2 linked regions of the Homo sapiens genome follow. The protein of the gene in region 1 interacts with the protein of each later gene in a biochemical or structural test. Each region holds a gene or a part of one and is shown on either strand. Other genes may lie near its edges.

Region 1 (8,532 bases):
GGATCTGGTGACCTGGAATGGGCACTGGGGGGCAGGAAGCATCTGAGTGGCTGTGACTTGGGGCAAGCCTCTGCCTCATTGGTCCCTTGGTCAGGTGCAGGGGTGTGGAATGATCCTAGTGGGGAGACAGCAGAGGACTGTGTCAAAGCCCCCCTGGGAATCCCCGATCCAGTAGCCTCCTTGGGTGGGTTGCAGGGTTGCCGGAAGCTTCTCTTCTTCAGGTGTCCTGATCCACCCAAGTCCTTGGGTCTACCAGGTGCTGCCAGGATTGAAGCTAAGACGGTGGGGCACGCGGTCTGGGTGTGTCGTGTCCCACGATGGGGGACGTCTCTGGGTCCAGGCCTGCTTGGTCTTCCTTAGGATAGAGGCAGGGTGGGGGTTGGGTGGTTTTGGTCCCTTTATTGTCTGGGGTGCAGGCAGCCGCATGGCACAAATCTGCAGTCTCTGGGGTTGGGAGGAAGAATCAGAGAACAACCTGAGGGGAGGTCCTGGAAGTCCCAGGCTCAGCTCCCAGGGCGCCCTGGGCTCCTGCTCCCTGAAGGGGATGCGGAGGGAAGAAGGGCCCCGCTGCGCCAGCTGAGGCTGGTTTATCTCTAGGAGGTGAAGGTCCAACGGCAGGACACCTGTGTGTGTTCGCTGGAAGTGGCGGCTCAGGACGGGGAACAGGGCAGGACGCCCGGAGGTGGGGAGCAGGATAACTCCGGAGTGGGGCACTCAGGGAGCAGCGGACGCCCCCAGCAGCAGCAGGGTCCCGGCCAGCAGTGGCAGCGACGCGGCAACTGGGTGCGCGGCGTCGGTGGTGCAGGCGGGAGGCGCCAGGTCGCAGGCCGTGTAGGGCTCCAGACAGGCAGCGAAGGCCATGACATGCGCTACGAAGCTCTGCTCCTGCACACCATGCACCAGGTGCGCCTGCGGGCCGCGCGCAAACACCGCCACGTCTTCGCCTCCGTGGGTCTCGGACGACAGGGGCACCGCCGCCTGCTGCTGGTAATCGGGGCTCCCTGGTAGGAGGGTGAGTGCACTTCAGGGCAGGCAGGCGGCGTCCCCCTCCCGCGAATGCCCCCATCCCTGGCACCCTGGTCCCCCTGCACGGGCCATTCAGCCTCACTCACCGCTCTCGCTCTCATTCACGTCTGGTCGCACGCCTGAGTTGAACACGTAGCCCGGGCCATTGCCGTACAGGATGGACGTGTAGGCTTTGCTGTCCTGAGCCTTGCTGGGGGCCAACCCTGTAGGGAGATGCGGGTCCCTGTAGTTGAGCTGACCACAGCTGTGGGAGTGCCTCCTATGTGCCAGGCACCGCCACTTTTTGCCTGTTCGGGGGCTCGGTCCTCACAAGATCCCTATAGGGCTGGTGCCAGCATTGCACACTTTTGACAGAGGAGGAAACTGAAGCTCAAACTTCACCCTCATAATTGATGCAGCAGCACCTGCCACTCTCCCCAGGCCTACCGAAGATGGAGCTCCCTCGCAAGGTGTAGCCACCAAAGGAGAAGACATGGGAGTGGTCAGCGGTGACGAGGGTCAGCGTGTCCTCCTCGCTGGTGAGCTGGCCCGCCCTCTCAATGGCGTCGTCGAACATGACCGCCTCAGTGAGTGCCTGGTAAGCCACACCCTCATGATGACCATGGTCGATGCGGCCGCCTGCAGGAAGGCCAGAGGGGGGTGATGCTTGAACCTGCCCTGCCGCGCCCCGCCTTCCTCCACTCCCCAGGGGCCACCACGCACCCTCCACAAAGAGGTAGAAGCCGCGGGGGTTCCTGCTCAGCAGGCGCAGGGCAGCCTCTGTCATCTCCATCAGGGAGGGGTCCAGTGTGGGGTCTCGGTGGATCTCATATTTCGTGTCTCCGGGCTCAAAGAGGCCTGTGGGACAAGGAGCTTGGTGGTGATTGGCAGGCTGTGAGCGGGAGGGTGCTGGCAAATGGGCACACAGGCTCGGATGGCACCCTCTGAGGTTGTCTGAGGAATGCCAGGGCAGGAAGGGGGTCATTACCCATGAGATGGGTCACAGACTGGTCCAGGGACGCCTGCATGAGCTCAGTGCGGTTCCACACATACCAGGCACCCTGCAGGGACAGAGCCAGGCTTCAGCCCACAGCCCTGAGACCCACACACTTGGCCTCCCCCTGCCGTGCCTCCCACACCCACCAGCCCCCATCACCTGGTGCTTTGCCAGCCATTCCTGCACCAGGTTCTTCCCGTCCAGCCTGATTCCATTCTGGCTGGCATCAGCTGGGTACTCAGGGTCTGGGGTCCCCATGGGAAACATGTACTTGCGGCCTCCGCCAAGGATCACCTGAGGACAATGGATGGGGCAGGTGGTTTGGGGGCCTGGCTGGCCCCGTGCCCCCTCCTCATGCATAGCCCCTGGCTCCCCTCCCCAGGGCTGTGGGAATGGCCCAGCCTGTATTGCACATTCTACATCCCCAACTCCACCTCCAGAACCTGCTGACCCAGATCAGGCTTTTGGTTGCCTGGATCTGAGCCTGTGCCACCTTCCCCTCTGCCCAGCCCCAGCCCTTGGCCCGGGGGTCGCACGTCAATGTCCATGTTGGAGATGAGCTGAGTGGCGATGTCCTGGCACCCCTCCTGGCGGGCTGAGGCAGGCATGTCAGCATCTGAGTACCAGTTGCGGTTCACTGTGTGTGCGTAGGTGCCGGCTGGCGAGGCGTGCTGCACCCGTGTGGTGGTCACCACTCCTACTGACTTTCCTGAGGGTGACAGAGGTCAGGATCGGTGACCGAGATCTTGGGCCTGGTCCTGACCCCACAGCGGGCCCCAGCTCACCTGCTTGCTTGGCCCGGTTCATCACGGAGATGACCTCATTGCCGCGTGTCGTGTTGCACTGGTTAAAGCGGGCGGCTGCACTCAAGCCGATGGTCTGGAAGTTGGCCTTGACCCCGCACAGGTAGGCCGTGGCTGTGGCTGCGCTGTCTGGCACCTGTCTGTCCACATTGTATGTCTGCGAACGGAGACACCCTGAGCTCTACTTCGGGGCGGACACCCAGACCCCAACCAAGGACCTGGTTCTGGTCCTCTGGGATCCTAACTGCTCCCAGCTCCTAACTTAGGCCCCAGCTGTCCTGGCTCCCTCCCTCCTGCCACACTCCATATCCTTGATCCCTCTCCTCTGCTTGGAGGACTCTGAGGTGGCCCAGCCCTTACCTTGGACAGAGCCAGGTATGGGAAGCGGTCCATGGCCAGGGGCGTCTCAGGCCCCAGTTTGCCATTCTTCTGCCCCTTTAGGATCCTGGTGGCTGTCACCGTGGGCACCCCCAACCCTGAAGGAGCAGAAATGTGTGAGTCCTGGGCCCCAGGGTTGTCCTGGAACCACTGAAGGTCCCGGGTGCCGGGGCTGTGAGGACTACGGGGCTGGACAGGCCTTGCTCACTCACCATCGCCCAGGAAGAGGATGAGGTTCTTGGCGACCTTCTGGATGGGCTGCAGCTTCTTGGCAGCATCCAGGGCCTCAGCTGCCTGGCGGTTCCAGAAGGCCGGGTTCTCCTCCTCAGCTGGCCAGGGGGAGAGTAGAGATCAGGTCAGCCTGGCTGAGGGGGTGCCCTGTGTGTGGAACAGCTTGGGGAGCCTCATTACCTGGGATGACGCCCAGGGAGAGCTGTAGCCTCAGGCCCAGCAGCAGCAGCACCCAGGGCCCCTGCATGTCTTGGGGGCAGCAGGAGGGAGGCGAAGTGGGGACACCAGGAACCGGCTGCAGCGCAGGCTGCCTGGGTTTAAATCAGGGGAGGACTTTGCCCCTGGCTGTAAATGCTCCACGTCCCTCCCCACACCCCTGGTGTCCATCTTGACCCCGCCCAGTCCTGTGACCTGAAGCCAAGCTTGCTGAAGGGAAGGGACTGGGTGTGGCTCACAGTGTCTTGTGGGAGACGCGTTGCCACTCCTTCATTCACCTCATTCAAGGTGTGAAGAGAGGTGAGACTGGAAACACACAGCCTAGGCCAGGGCCCGGGTTAGGGCTCGTAATGTCACGAGCCCCAGAGGAGTGTGAAAGGAGGCACACTGGGTGGCCTGGCTGCCCTAGAACCCACTTGGTGTATATGGGTGCCCACACCTATGTCCTGAGGACGCAGGCTGGGAAGGGGCCAGTGCTCTGGGTCAGCCAGACCTGGGCTGGGTCTTCCAGAGCAGCCTGTGCACTTGAGGTTGACCCCTGTTCCCTTGCACAGGTAGATGGAGCCTGGGGTGAGTCTGTTTTCCATGGGCCCCGGGGAACACCCAGAAGTGTAGCCTCTGATAAGGAGTTCAGAGAGTTTGGTAACCTCAGGCTGAGTTCAAAAGTATTGCTTCAGTCCAGACATCCCACTCTGAGTGTGTAGCCAAAGGAATGCGAACTAGGGACTCGAACAGATAACTGCACACCCATGTTCCCAGCAGCATTATCCACAGCAGCCAAGAGCTGGAAGCTACCCAAGTGTCCAGCAAAAGAGAAATGGAGAAACCAAACAGGGTGCACACATACAATGGAGTATCACGCAGCCTTGAAAACAAAGGCGACCCTGACACCTGCTACAACATGGATGAACCTTAGGACATTATGCTCAGTGAAATATACCAGTGCAAAAGAACAAATACGCACGAACACACTTCTCTGAGGTCCCGAGGGGAGTCAAATACATAGAGACAGAAGTGGAATGGAGGTTGCCTGAGGCTGAGGGAGGAGGCAATGGGTTAGGGTTGGGGTTAGGGTTAGAGTTGGAGTTTAATAGGGACAGAGCTTCAAGGTTGCAGGATGAGAATGTTCTGGAGATCAGCTGCACAACACTGTGCGTGTACTCAACACTGCCGCCCTGTACACTTGAAAATGGTGAAGGAGGTAAACTTGATGTACCGTGTTTTGTAGCACAATTCAAAAACTGGTTCAAGAAGAAAAGGCTCCTCCAGCTCCACCCACCCCAGCCCAACCACAGCAGCCCCTTCTCCACTCGAGCCTGTTTACCTCAAACCCCAGGCTTGGCCCTCAGAACCCAGGGGACCTCACCTGCTGCCCAGCCTCTGCCTGCCCTGCCCCACTCCCCACCACGCCTAGGGCCTCCCTCAGGCCGAGCTTTCCCGGGTCCTCCTGCCTGCGCCCTCCTGGCTTCCCGGTGGTCGTCCTGGGGCTCTCAGGGAAGATGTCGCTCTCATAGGTCCTTCTTGCCCCCTGCTTGTTGCCCCCTTAGTTTCCTCTACCTCCTGCTTCATCTTGCTGAGTTAGGAACATTCTTGGCTGAAAGTCAGAGGAGACTCACTAATGGGTCTCCTCAATTAATTGATTGATTGATTCCAAAGTCAAGGTGAGTCAGGAGGCTTTATAGCCACCCTGAGTTTCATGTTTAAGTTGGAATTTTTGACAGAACTATAGATTCACAAGTAGTTGTAAGAAATAATACAAGCTGGGTGCGGTGGCTCATGCCTGTAATCCCAGCACTTTGGGAGGCCGAGGTGGGTGGATCATGAGGTCAGGAGATCAAGGCCATCCTGGCTAACACAGTGAAACCCCATCTCTACTAAAAATACAAAAAATTAGCTGGGTGTGGTGGCATGCACCTGTAGTCCCAGCTACTTGGGAGGCTGAGGCAGAAGAATCACTTGAACCTGGGAGGTGGAGGTTGCAGTGAGCTGAGATCATGCCACTGCACTCCAGCCTGGGTGGCAGAGTGAGACTCTGTCTCAAAAAAAAAAAAAAGGGAAATAATACAAGAGGCCCTACGTAGTGGCTCACCCCTGCAATCCTAGCACTTTAGGAGGCTGAGGCGGGAGATTCACTTGAGCGCAGGAGTTTGAGACCAGCCTGGGCAACATGGAAAAACCTCATCTCTACAAAAAATACAAAAATTAGCGGAGCGAAATGGCCTGCTCCTGTGGTCCCTCCACAGGAAATAAATTAAATAGCCTTTGGGTGTGAGCTGAAATTATCTCTCCACCTACTTGGGAAGCTGAGGTGGGAGTATCACTTGAGCCCGGGAGGTGGAGGTTGCAGTGAGTCAAGACCATATCATTGCACTCTAGCCTGGGTGACAGAACAAGACCCTGTCTAAACAAAAAAAAAAAAAGAAGAAAGTACAAGAGATGTCTGTGCACTTTGCTTAGTCTCCCCCAGTGGCATAATCCACAGTTATTATTCAGATTTCCCCAGTGTTACCTGTATTCGTGTGCATGTGTGTGGGAGTGTGTATACAATTTATCACCTAAGTAGGTTTGTGTAACAGCACCATAGTTGAGATGCTGAAGAGCTCCAACCCCACAGGGTACTTTTATAACCAGGCCACCTCTTTCCTCTACCTCTTCCCCTGTCCCTAATCCTTGACAACCAGATATGTGTCCAACCTGGGTGACAGAGTGAGACAACATCTCAGAAAAAGAAAAAAATAAGAAATGCCTTGTGGACTTTGCATAGTTTCCCCACCTTTGGTTAGTTTCACTGCCACCCTAACTTTGCCATCTCCCCTTTAACAAGATAAAGCATGCTTTAGACTCAAAACATCTAAGGAGGCTGTAAGAACACTGCTTTTGGTGTGTGTGGAATACACAGTTGCTTCTGTTTATGGCAAGAGATGGTGGTCTTCCATTTTTCAGTTACAAGTTTCCTTTTCTAATAGACTTAAGGCAAATCTGAGCTTATGTAGAGAAAAATATTCAGTAAATCATACCACAGGCAGTAATGTGGCTACGGCAAAAAGTTGTCAAGGTGATACGTGACTAGCTGAGTGCTAAGAAGCATGGATTTAAAAGAAGTAAATTAAATAGCCTTTGAGTCTGAGCTGAAATTCTCTGTCCACCACTTACTGAGTGTCCTTCAGAACGGAACCTCTCCAAGCCTTAATTCCCTCATCTATGAACGAAAAGAATGATAGTCCTGTCAACCTTAAGAAACAGAGGGAGGCTCTCCAAAACTATGGAGTTTAACTGGGAATAAGCAGCAGCATTGCATGCAGAGCCCCGGCCTTAGTAAACTAGGGGCGCATCGGAGGAGGGGAGGCAAGGGGTGCTTTGAAAGGCGAAAGGAGCAGTGCATGGTCGGTTTTTGGTTTTTGTCTTTTTTTTTTTTTTTTTCTTGAGTTGCTCTGTTGCCCAGGCTGGAGTGCAGTGGCACAGTCTCAGCTCACTGCAACCTCTGCCTCCCGGGTTCTCCTGCCTCAGCCTCCTGAGTAGCTGGGACTACAGGCACTCACCACCACATCCACCTACACAGCTGTTTTGAAAGGAAGAGAACACTGATTCCAGGGGCTTATCCCAGGAACCGGCATAAGTTTATGAGTGGACACAGCGTTATTAGGCAAGTGTTCTTGTGCAGCCGGCTAGCCGTCCTTGTGACTCACATAGTGAGCTGCAAAGTCCCGGCAAAAAATAAAAAATAAAAAAAGGTCTTGTTGCAGGCATCTGTGCCCTTCCCAGAGGCTTCGGAAGGGCTCTGATCATAGGCAGGTGTGCGGGAGGGCCCTCCTTCAGAACCTCCCGGCCGCATGATTTTGTTGTTGCTCTTAGGGTTGGACAGAAGTGGCTCCATTTTGATTCTGACAACTTTCACAGAGCCTGGGTCTCGGGGCTGTTGCGGGGACTTAATTAGTCCAGGGCCTGCTGCAGAGTTAGCAGGGGAGCAGGGGGCAAGAGGCGACCCCTGACCTTTATGAACACGAGGCAAGTCCTGAACATCCTTGAAACCTGTTTCCAAGCTGCGGGTCTGCACAGCACACAGTTGGCCAAATGGTAGCGGAAGCAGCTCCTTCCTAGAGCACAAATCTCTAAATTCCTAATTAAGGGCTGTGTAGGCAGGACCTCCCTCTGGCCCATCCCACCTACCAAGGAGGGACATCCAGGCATTCCTCATGCACAGGAGAACTTGGGTCAGGTACCTGGGGTGGGAACAAGAAGGGACTGTCCCACCCCCAAGGCAGGAGACACCCCAACCTCCTCCCTATGGGCTTCCTGGGGAGGCCTCTCAACAGGCCATGGAGCCCCCTCAGCAGCACAAGCAGGACACTGGGGCCTCAGCCTGTGGGAAGCTGCAGGCACAGGAATGGGCTCAGTGGAGGGGGCACTCAGCCAGGCACCCCGAGCCCTGATCTGGCCACCTCCTTCACCCCTGCCCCCTAATACCAGCAGTAGTGACAGTGGCAGGGGTGGCTGGCAGGTGGGCCCTAGTGAATGGTTGTCCCCTGAGAGTGAGGGACAAAAGACAATTCTGCCCTGAAGGGTGCTTCGGGCGTCTATATGGATGTGTGGAAAGGAAAGTGTATGAAGTCAAGGATGCTGCAATTGTGTTTAGTGGTTTAACTTTGATCTTGTATGACAGGAACCAGGGGGACAATTGTATTCCAATAGCACCCTGGTGAGTTGAAAACCTGTTAAGTTGAATACACTATTGGAGAGTTTTTGTTCCATCTTCTATTTTGCCCTTCAATTTCTGTTGCTTTTTAAATATCTGGCTAAGTGCTTTCCAGAACTGAGCAATGTACTATTGATAAACATTAAGAACACAACACAGCTCATGAACGAGGTTGAGCAAAACTGTTTTTTAAGTAAAATAAATTATTT
Region 2 (8,039 bases), on another chromosome or scaffold:
AGCCATCAGGGGTGAGTAATAGACCGCATTCTCCGGCTCTGAGCCTTGATGGTCTCTGGCCGCCAAGTTCACACTGCTCAGGGAGCCCTGAGCCTCCAGCCTGGGGCAAGGGCCTAGCCCCAGGATTCCCCAGTTTTCAAGCCAAGGCCGACTTTGGGATAGGGGAGATGTACCTGTACAGTAATGAGCTTCTTCTCTCGGGGTTTGCGGTCAGGCCATTCTTCCCCAAAGCAGAAGAAGATCTCGAAGGGTGGTGGGGTGTTGGTCTGGCCCTTTTGGAACAGGATGAGCTCTGCATCAAAATCAAGGTCCCTAGTCAGAGGCTGGAACCATGCCCTGGGCAAGAGGCAGCCAGGAGGATCACAGCTTTGGGCCCTCACCATTGAGAAAATGCTCCAGGCTGAAAAGCTTGGTCTTGACCTCCCGCTGGATGGGGTTGGGGCATGAGTCATGGGCTGAGGCACAAGGCCCGCTCCAGAACACCTTGCACTGACACAGGCGGATGGCATAAAGGTCCTGGCCCTGTAGCTGGAGGATGAGCCCGCGGTCCAGGACATCCAGCAGCTGGTTCGTGTAGAAGCGCTGCTTGTCACTGGGGATGTCCTCAGGGCTGGGGAAGCGCACTTGCTCCAGGCTTATGGGGCCGAAGAGTTCCACCTGCTCCTGGGTGGCCTCCAGCTGGCTGTAGAAGAGCCGGCAGCCATGGGGGTTGCTGATGGTGAGGGCCCGGGGTGGCCGCCCCCGGTACTGAAACTTGATCTCCAGGTCGGTCACTGTGGGGCAGAAGGCAGGCCCATCCCGTCCTTGAGCCCCACGCCTCCCCATTCTGCAGCCCAGTGGCCAGGCCCAGCCCCATCCGCCCTCCCACTTTTCCCACCCAAGGGAGTCCAGCACCCTCCACCCTCCTTGCCAATCCTACCCCAATCCCCCAGCACTGCTTCCCCGTGCCCAGCCATGGGTCCTTACGAGGCAGCATGTGGGGGCTGATCAGCAGGTCTGGCAGGAGCTGTTCGCCTGCAGGGGGCAGGCTGGCAGGCAGGGGCCCAGGCTCCAGGACCTCAGAGAGAAGCTCCCTGAAGCCAGCAGGGTTGCCAGGGGGAGGAGCCAGGGGGCTGGGGTCTGGAGCAGGGGGACCCAGCACCACGGGCGGCTGCAGAGTGGGCGGCTGCAGAGTAGGCGGCCGCAGAGTGGGCGGCTGCAGAGTGGGCGGCCACTTGACATCCTCTTTGAGTAAAGAATAGGGTGTCATGTGGGGGCCAGACTGCACTGCATCTACAGAGAGTGCGTGTGGACGGCTGTCAGTGCCACCTCCACGAACTGCCTCCCAGGCACACCTCCTCCCAGCCCTGGGCCACCCTAGCCTCCCATCAGCCCCCTTCCAGGTACCTATGGTACCTATAGCTTCTCTGTATACTAGACCCCCAACCACCACCTCCCGGCCCCACCTGTGAGGCTCAGGCTTGGCAACATCCTCTGCAGCTGAAGGGACACCACCAGCAAGGGAGGGAAGAGATGGGAGAGAAAGGAGGACAGGTTATTCCACTGACCTGGGGCTGGGGAAATAACAGGCGAGAACTATGAGGCAACTCCCCTAGCCTCAGTTTAGCTCAGGCAAGACCCTGCCTCCGGTCCCAGCTCGTCCATCCCAGGCAGGTCAGAAAAGCCCTTTGCCTCACTTTCCTCATTTGCCTTCTGCAGGGAGTCAGACCTACCAAGCCCCAACTGCTGCGTGGGTCACACACACAGGGTAATGACAATGCCCTGGGAAGGAGCAGGTGGGGACTGTGCTCCTATCGTTCAGAATCCCAGGAGAAGAAACAAGGAGAACTATTGAGAGGGCCACGGGGCTCCATGGGAGTGGGGCTGCGGAAACCTAAGGCCGATGGGGACAGCAGAGAGCTCGTCCAGGGCTCCACCTGCCTCCTCAACCCACACTCACCTCTTCCTCTTCTTCCTCCTCCTCTCCTGCACCAAAAGAGTAATCCTCAGGGGGCTGGGAGTCTGCACAGCAGGGAGAGAAAAGCAGGGCAGTAAAGGAGTCAATGTCGGAGGAGAAGCAAGATCCCCTGAGAGGCTGCCTGTAGCTCCTATGCAGCTTCTGCCTTCCCCAAAGCTGCCCCCAACACAGGGCGAGGTGGAGGGCACAGCCACCAGGATTGGGAAAGACCTCCCCGACTCCATGGGCCATGAGACCTAGGCTGGAGCCAGAAGCCAAAACGAGGGCAATGGTAAGGAAGAAGCACCCAGGTCCCTGACTGCACGCCAAGCCATTCCTGATATGCCAGTGACCCATCCCAGCCACTCCTGGAAGCCCTGGGTGTCATGACCTAGCGGGAGCCCCCGCATCGTTTCCTGGACCACTGCCTGCTAGAGGGGCCCTTGGCCTGCCTGCACCCAAGAGCTCATGGCTGGGGGCCAGGACATTGCACAGCCTCCCAGGTGGCCCACAGAGGGCTAGGCCTGATACCTGTGGGAGCAGGGCCATTGGAGCAGACCTCGTAGATCTTGTAGGGCTGAGGTGGCATGTCCCGGGGCCCGTCGTAGATGAGGCGGAAGTCCCGGCTCTTGTTAAGGGCACAGCGCAGGTTGGCCTTCCACTTGGCCGGATCGGCTTCATCCACGCCTTCGGTGTATTTCCCTGTCTCCTTGGCCCAGGCCTGGGGCAGGAAGAAATAGCCGACCACAGAGAACCTCATCCCTGCCACAGCCCCAGTCTGCCTCCTGTCCCATAGGAGACTCTACTGTGTGGGGAGAACTTCGGCTACAGGCTGAGCCTCGCTGAGCCCCAGACCTGGTTTGCAGCGTGGGAGTCTGCCACAGTCCTGCCCCAGCCCTCAGGCTGCCAGCAAGCTACATGAAATCTAGGGGCTATGAGATGCATCCATAGTCCCTGCTCCTGGGAGGGTGAAACAGTGTGATCTCTAAGGAGGACAGCGTGCGGGATAAGGGTGAGCACCCTGGAGCCAGGCTGGGTTTGAATCTGGAAGTGCCCCCCGCCAGCTGTGTGCCAGGCCATGTCACTGCCTCCCTTTGTCTTGATCTCCTCACAGTTGCCCACCTCATGGAGTGGCAGCGAAGACTCAAGGGGTTGATGTTGGCTGGGCACAGTGGCTCGCACCTGTAATCCCAACATTTTGGGAGGCCAAGGTGGGAGGACTGCTTGAGCCCAGGAGTTGGAGTCCAGCCTAGGCAACATAACGAGACTCCTGTCTTTACAAAAAATTAGCTGGGCATAGTGGTGGGTGCCTGTGGTCCCAGCTACTCAGGAGGCTGAGGTGAGAGGATTGCTTGAGCTGGGGAGTTCAAGGCTGCAGTGAGCCATGATTATGCTCTGCACTCCAGCCTGGACGACAGAGTGATACCCTATCTCAAAAAAGATGAGGGGAGTTGATGTCCGTAAAGCACTCAGAGCTAAACCTGCACATAGGACAGGCTCGAGACACTGGAGCTGTTGGTATTATTTTGAATGGCAATTAGGTGAGGTGAGGGTTACCAACATTTCTTTCTACCTTTTAACCCAGCTATTTGATTTCTAGGAATTCATCCTAAATATCATAGAAGCATTCACACAAAATATTGCACACACAAAGTTATTCGCAGCAGTGCTGTGTGTAAAAGATGACCCAAAATACCCAATGCAACATCCATCAATGAGGGGCTGGTGAAATTACGGCCAACCCATTGAATGAAAAATACTGGGCAGCACAAAAAAAGAAAAAGCAGGAAACTGTTTATAAGCTGACATGTAGCAATCGTCAAGAAGTATTAAGTCTAGACAAATATGCAGATATCTAGCATTTCTTATGAAAAGTAGAGGAAAGGATAGTTCCATATTTGCTTACATGTGCATAAAAATCTCTCAGGAAGGCTAAACAAGAAAATGACAACACGGCTGCCTCTAGGGAAAGGCTAGGGAGGGGAGTGGGTGGTGATGAACCAGGGAAGGAGGGAGACTTTTTGCTCTAAACCATTCTATGCCTTTTAATGTTGAATTTTGTGACTGTATTACCTATACAAAATAAATGGATTAGCAAAAGAATTTTGGAAAGGTAAGGATCAAGCCCAAAAACTAAGAAAATATGTACCCAAAGTTTTAAAAAATAAGCATTGCCTTTGACCCAGCAATTTTCAACTCTAGGAAATCAACCCCCAAAATAATTGAGGATGAAAAAAAGGGAAGCATTAAGACAGCCTACATGACAATGTGGTTTTTAAGTTCAGGTTTTAAAAGCAATCTCAAGTATCTAAAAACCAAGACTCAGTGACCAAATTGTGCTAAACCATTCCAGTGGAAATTCTACAGTCACGAAAAGTGATGTGGACGTATGTTGGAAAGGAAAGCTGATCCTGATATTGGGTGAAAAAAATCCAGGCTATAAATCAAGATATTCACTTGATTCCAATTTTGCATTCCATATACACACATGTGCAAAAAAACTAAAATGTAAGCAAAAACTATTATGCGAGGTACATCCTAGCATTAAGATTATTGGAGAGAGCACAGTGGCTTGCGCCTGTGATACCAGCTACTCAGGAGGCTGAGGTGGGAGGATCACTTGAGCCCATGAGCTTGAGACCAGCCTGGGCAACAAAGTGAGACCTCATCTTTACAAATATCAAAATCAAAAAATTAGGCTGGGCACGGTGGCTCACGCCTGTAATCCCAGCACTTTGGGAGGCCAAGGCAGGTGGATCATGAGGTCAGGAGTTCAAGACCAGCCTGGCCAACAGGGTGAAACCCTGTCTTTACCAAAAATACAAAAAAAAAAAAAAAAAAAAAAAAAAAAAAAAAAATTAGCCGGGCATGGTGGCAGGTGCCTGTAATCCTAGCTACTCGGGAGGCTGAGGCAGGAGAATTGCTTGAACCCAGGTGGCAGAGGTTGCAGTGAGCTGAGATTGTGCCATTGCACTCCAGCTAGGGTGAAAAAGCAAGACTCCATCTCAAAAAAAAAAAAAAAAATTAGCTGGGCATGGTGGCATGCACCTGTAGTCACGGCTACTCAGGAAGCTGAGACTGGAGGATCACTTGAGCTGAGTTGGAGGTTGTGCTATGACTGCACCACTGCTCACCAATGGTGCAACACTAGGCAACAGAGCAACAACTCATCTCAAAAAAAAAAAAAAAGAGTATATATGTACAGTTGTAGTACATCAATTAAAAAAAAAGATTGGGCCGGGCATGGTGGCTCACACCTGTAATCCCAGCACTCTGGGAGGCTGAGGTGGGTGGATTGCTTGAGTCCAGGAGTTCAAGACCAGCCTGGGCAACATGGCAAAGTCTCTACTAAAAGTACAAAAAATTAGCCAGTTGTGGTGGCAGGCACCTGTAATCCCAGCTACTCAAGGAGGTTGAGATGGGAGACTCACCTGAGCCTGGGAGGTCGAGGCTGCAGTGAGCTGAGATCAAGCCACTGCACTCCAGCCTGGGTGACAGAGTGAGACCCTGTCTCAAAAAAAAAAAAAAAAAAAAAAAAAAAATTGGAATCTGGTCAACAGTGTGAGGCCCTGTCTCTAAAAAAAATTAGAAAATTTAAACAATTGAAAGATTGATGATGTATCTGAATCTTATATTAAAAATAGTTTGTTCCCAACACAAAGAAATGACAAATGTTTGAGATTATGGATATGCTAAGTACCTGATCTGATCACTGTGCTTATCAAATCACCACTGTGTACCCCATAAATATATACTAATTTAAAAATAAAATTTTTAGAAAGATGATGATCGTTGGCTTCCTTTAGCATATGCGTGCACTGAACAAGTCCTCATGAGTAATAGGAGTGAGACGAGCAAAGGGTGAGTAGGACGAGTTATGGGAAGGCCTTCTGGGGACCCTCAGTCCCCACGATGCTCTAGGGTGCAGGTTAGAAAAGATGTGCCCTAGGCCAGGCGTGGTGGCTCATGCCTGTAATCCCAGCTACTCAGGAGGCTGAGGCAGGAGAATTGCTTGAACCCAGGAGGCAGAGGTTGCAGTGAGCTGAGATCGTGCCACTGCACTCCAGCCTGGGCTACAGAGCGAGACTCTGTCTTAAAAAAAAAAAAAAAGGAAAAAGGTGTACCCTGTGTCTACGTCTGCATCCCCTTAGTCCGGGCCCGGCATCAGCAGCAGCATGGTAGCTGGGCGGGTGGCCAGCCTCGAGGAGCTGCCTGTGTGCGTTATGTGCGCTCCTCTTCTGGGGACAGGGTGCCCTGGAGGTCCAGCCAACCTCCTCCCCGGGGCTTACCTTGAAGATGGTGTTATCTCCGTCCTGGCTGGGACCATGCCTTGTGGCATGCCTCCAGGGGATGCAGAATAATTTCTTTTCCCCGTTGACCCATTGAAGCCCTGGGTACTGGCAGCTGTTCACCTGGGCCACCAGCCAGGGCTTCAGCCGCACGCGGCGGGGTGGGGTGGGAGCCACTGGGATGGACTGGTTCATGGCAGAGGGGTCTGCAGGAGAAAGCCAGAGGGGAGCCTCAGCAGGTCTGCAGGTGGATGGGGACAGGGTACTCAGAGGTCAAGCTATGGACCACAAAGGATGGTCTCTCCAGTCCATCTAGGTATTTAAGGCCAATTCTCTTTTCCAAGCATCAGCTTTCTTGTCTAGTGTCATGGAATTTTGTGTTTGGAGGAAGGGAAGGAGAGTTACGAGTTAGTGAATGCTGCGGGCGCGGCCCCAGGTGCCCTTTACCGGGCAGAGGCATCCATTCTCCAACTGCTAACAGCAGCAAGCAGCCCGTTGGCCAGAGAACCGCCTTCCACTACTCACACCACAGGTTAGGCCCACCCCTTGCTCTTGGGGGGCAGCCCACAGCCAGTGACTGCCTGACACCAAAAGCCCGGCTGTCTTGTCTCAAGCTGGCTACCTGGGACAGCGAGCGCTCTGTGGGATCAGCCCGAAGACAGCCTCCTGCTCAGTCTACACCCCTAGTTCGATTCTTCCCTGCCCAAGTTTTCTCACCCTCCATCCCCTGAGAGTTCCCTCCGGAGATGCCCTCAACAAGAATCTCATCTGGAGCTCCCAAGGACACCTGCCCTCAGAGGAAAGCAGTTTCTCAATATCTTTAGAGAAATCCCATCAACCAACTCAACCCACCTCCAATGACAGCAGGCACCAAACAGATGTTACCTCTCTAGGGCCATTCATCTAGGTTCTTGGTCCTCCCCCTTCTCCTCCCACTGGACACGCATTCGGGTAGCACTTAGGAAGGCCCTAACGCCTGCCGGAGCCTGTTAGGAAGGCTACAGGAAACAGAAGCCACAGCTCTAACTGCTACCTACCCAGGGGCACGAGCCCCGCCTCCCAGGCCACAGCTTCACTGCCTCCCTGGAGTCAGGCCAGAGGGACCCTGCCTCCTCCCCTTCACCTGCCCAACTCCCTCTCCAGCCCAGAACCGGAAACTCTCCACAGTCCTGAGTCCCCTTCTGTCCCTCTCCTCCCCTTACCCATGCCCTTGGCCCTTCACTTGAGACCCCTGGGTGGAAGACAGAAAGGACTGGGTCATTACACAGCACAGCCCATCAGAAGTGAATGTGTCGGTCAGCAAGTAAGGAGCAAACGTTCGAGCTGAACTCCCTGTGTCTGGGCCTGCTTTGGCCTTGCAGCATGGAGCCTCAGTTTCCCCTGAAATTCCCTGCCCAGTACCTTTTGGGGTTGCACCTGCCTAGTGCCGCCTCTGAGCTGCTACTGTCTCACATTGCAGGCCTCCCTCAGAGCCCAGCTCTGCTGCCACCAACCCAGGAGAGGTAAGGCCGGCCCTTGCCTGGCCCAGGGGCTGGGACGGGGAGGTGTTCAGAACGCTCCAGCCCTGCCCTGGCCTCAGAACACGCGGGCTCAGTTCCGCTTTCTGCCCCAGCCTCCACCCGGCCCCAGGGGAAACGAAAGTGGCTAGACCGGGACAACTCAGAAACCAGACTCACTGTGGGCTGAGGGAGGGAGCCGAGTGGGTCCCCCAGACCAAATTTCCAACCTCCCACCCAGAGCTGTTCCCCGCACCCCAAACTTGCAGACAGTTTTTGTGCATTTAGTGTGGTTTATAACATGGGTGTGCACCCACC

What was found. Proteins that work in one complex are often made in the same cells at the same time.
Region 2: the proteins of ALPI (region 1) and IRF5 form a complex in vitro, tested with the Homo sapiens proteins (one study listed by BioGRID).

Annotation. Positions count from the first base shown.
Region 1 is NC_000002.12:232,451,329-232,459,860, reverse strand, and holds the start of ALPI (intestinal-type alkaline phosphatase precursor), read right to left. Parts: upstream 3,709-8,532; 5' UTR 3,662-3,708; coding exon 3,595-3,661; intron 3,513-3,594; coding exon 3,396-3,512; intron 3,282-3,395; coding exon 3,166-3,281; intron 2,963-3,165; coding exon 2,788-2,962; intron 2,712-2,787; coding exon 2,539-2,711; intron 2,297-2,538; coding exon 2,162-2,296; intron 2,067-2,161; coding exon 1,994-2,066; intron 1,864-1,993; coding exon 1,729-1,863; intron 1,645-1,728; coding exon 1,453-1,644; intron 1,230-1,452; coding exon 1,113-1,229; intron 1,002-1,112; coding exon 715-1,001; 3' UTR 1-714. UniProt on the Homo sapiens protein: Alkaline phosphatase that can hydrolyze various phosphate compounds.
Region 2 is NC_000007.14:128,940,463-128,948,501, reverse strand, and holds part of IRF5 (interferon regulatory factor 5), read right to left. Parts: exon of another isoform or gene 7,078-8,039; intron 6,432-7,077; 5' UTR 6,421-6,431; coding exon 6,226-6,420; intron 2,658-6,225; coding exon 2,468-2,657; intron 2,002-2,467; coding exon 1,940-2,001; intron 1,480-1,939; coding exon 1,446-1,479; intron 1,273-1,445; coding exon 967-1,272; intron 774-966; coding exon 381-773; intron 293-380; coding exon 174-292; intron 1-173. UniProt on the Homo sapiens protein: Transcription factor that plays a critical role in innate immunity by activating expression of type I interferon (IFN) IFNA and INFB and inflammatory cytokines downstream of endolysosomal toll-like receptors TLR7, TLR8 and TLR9.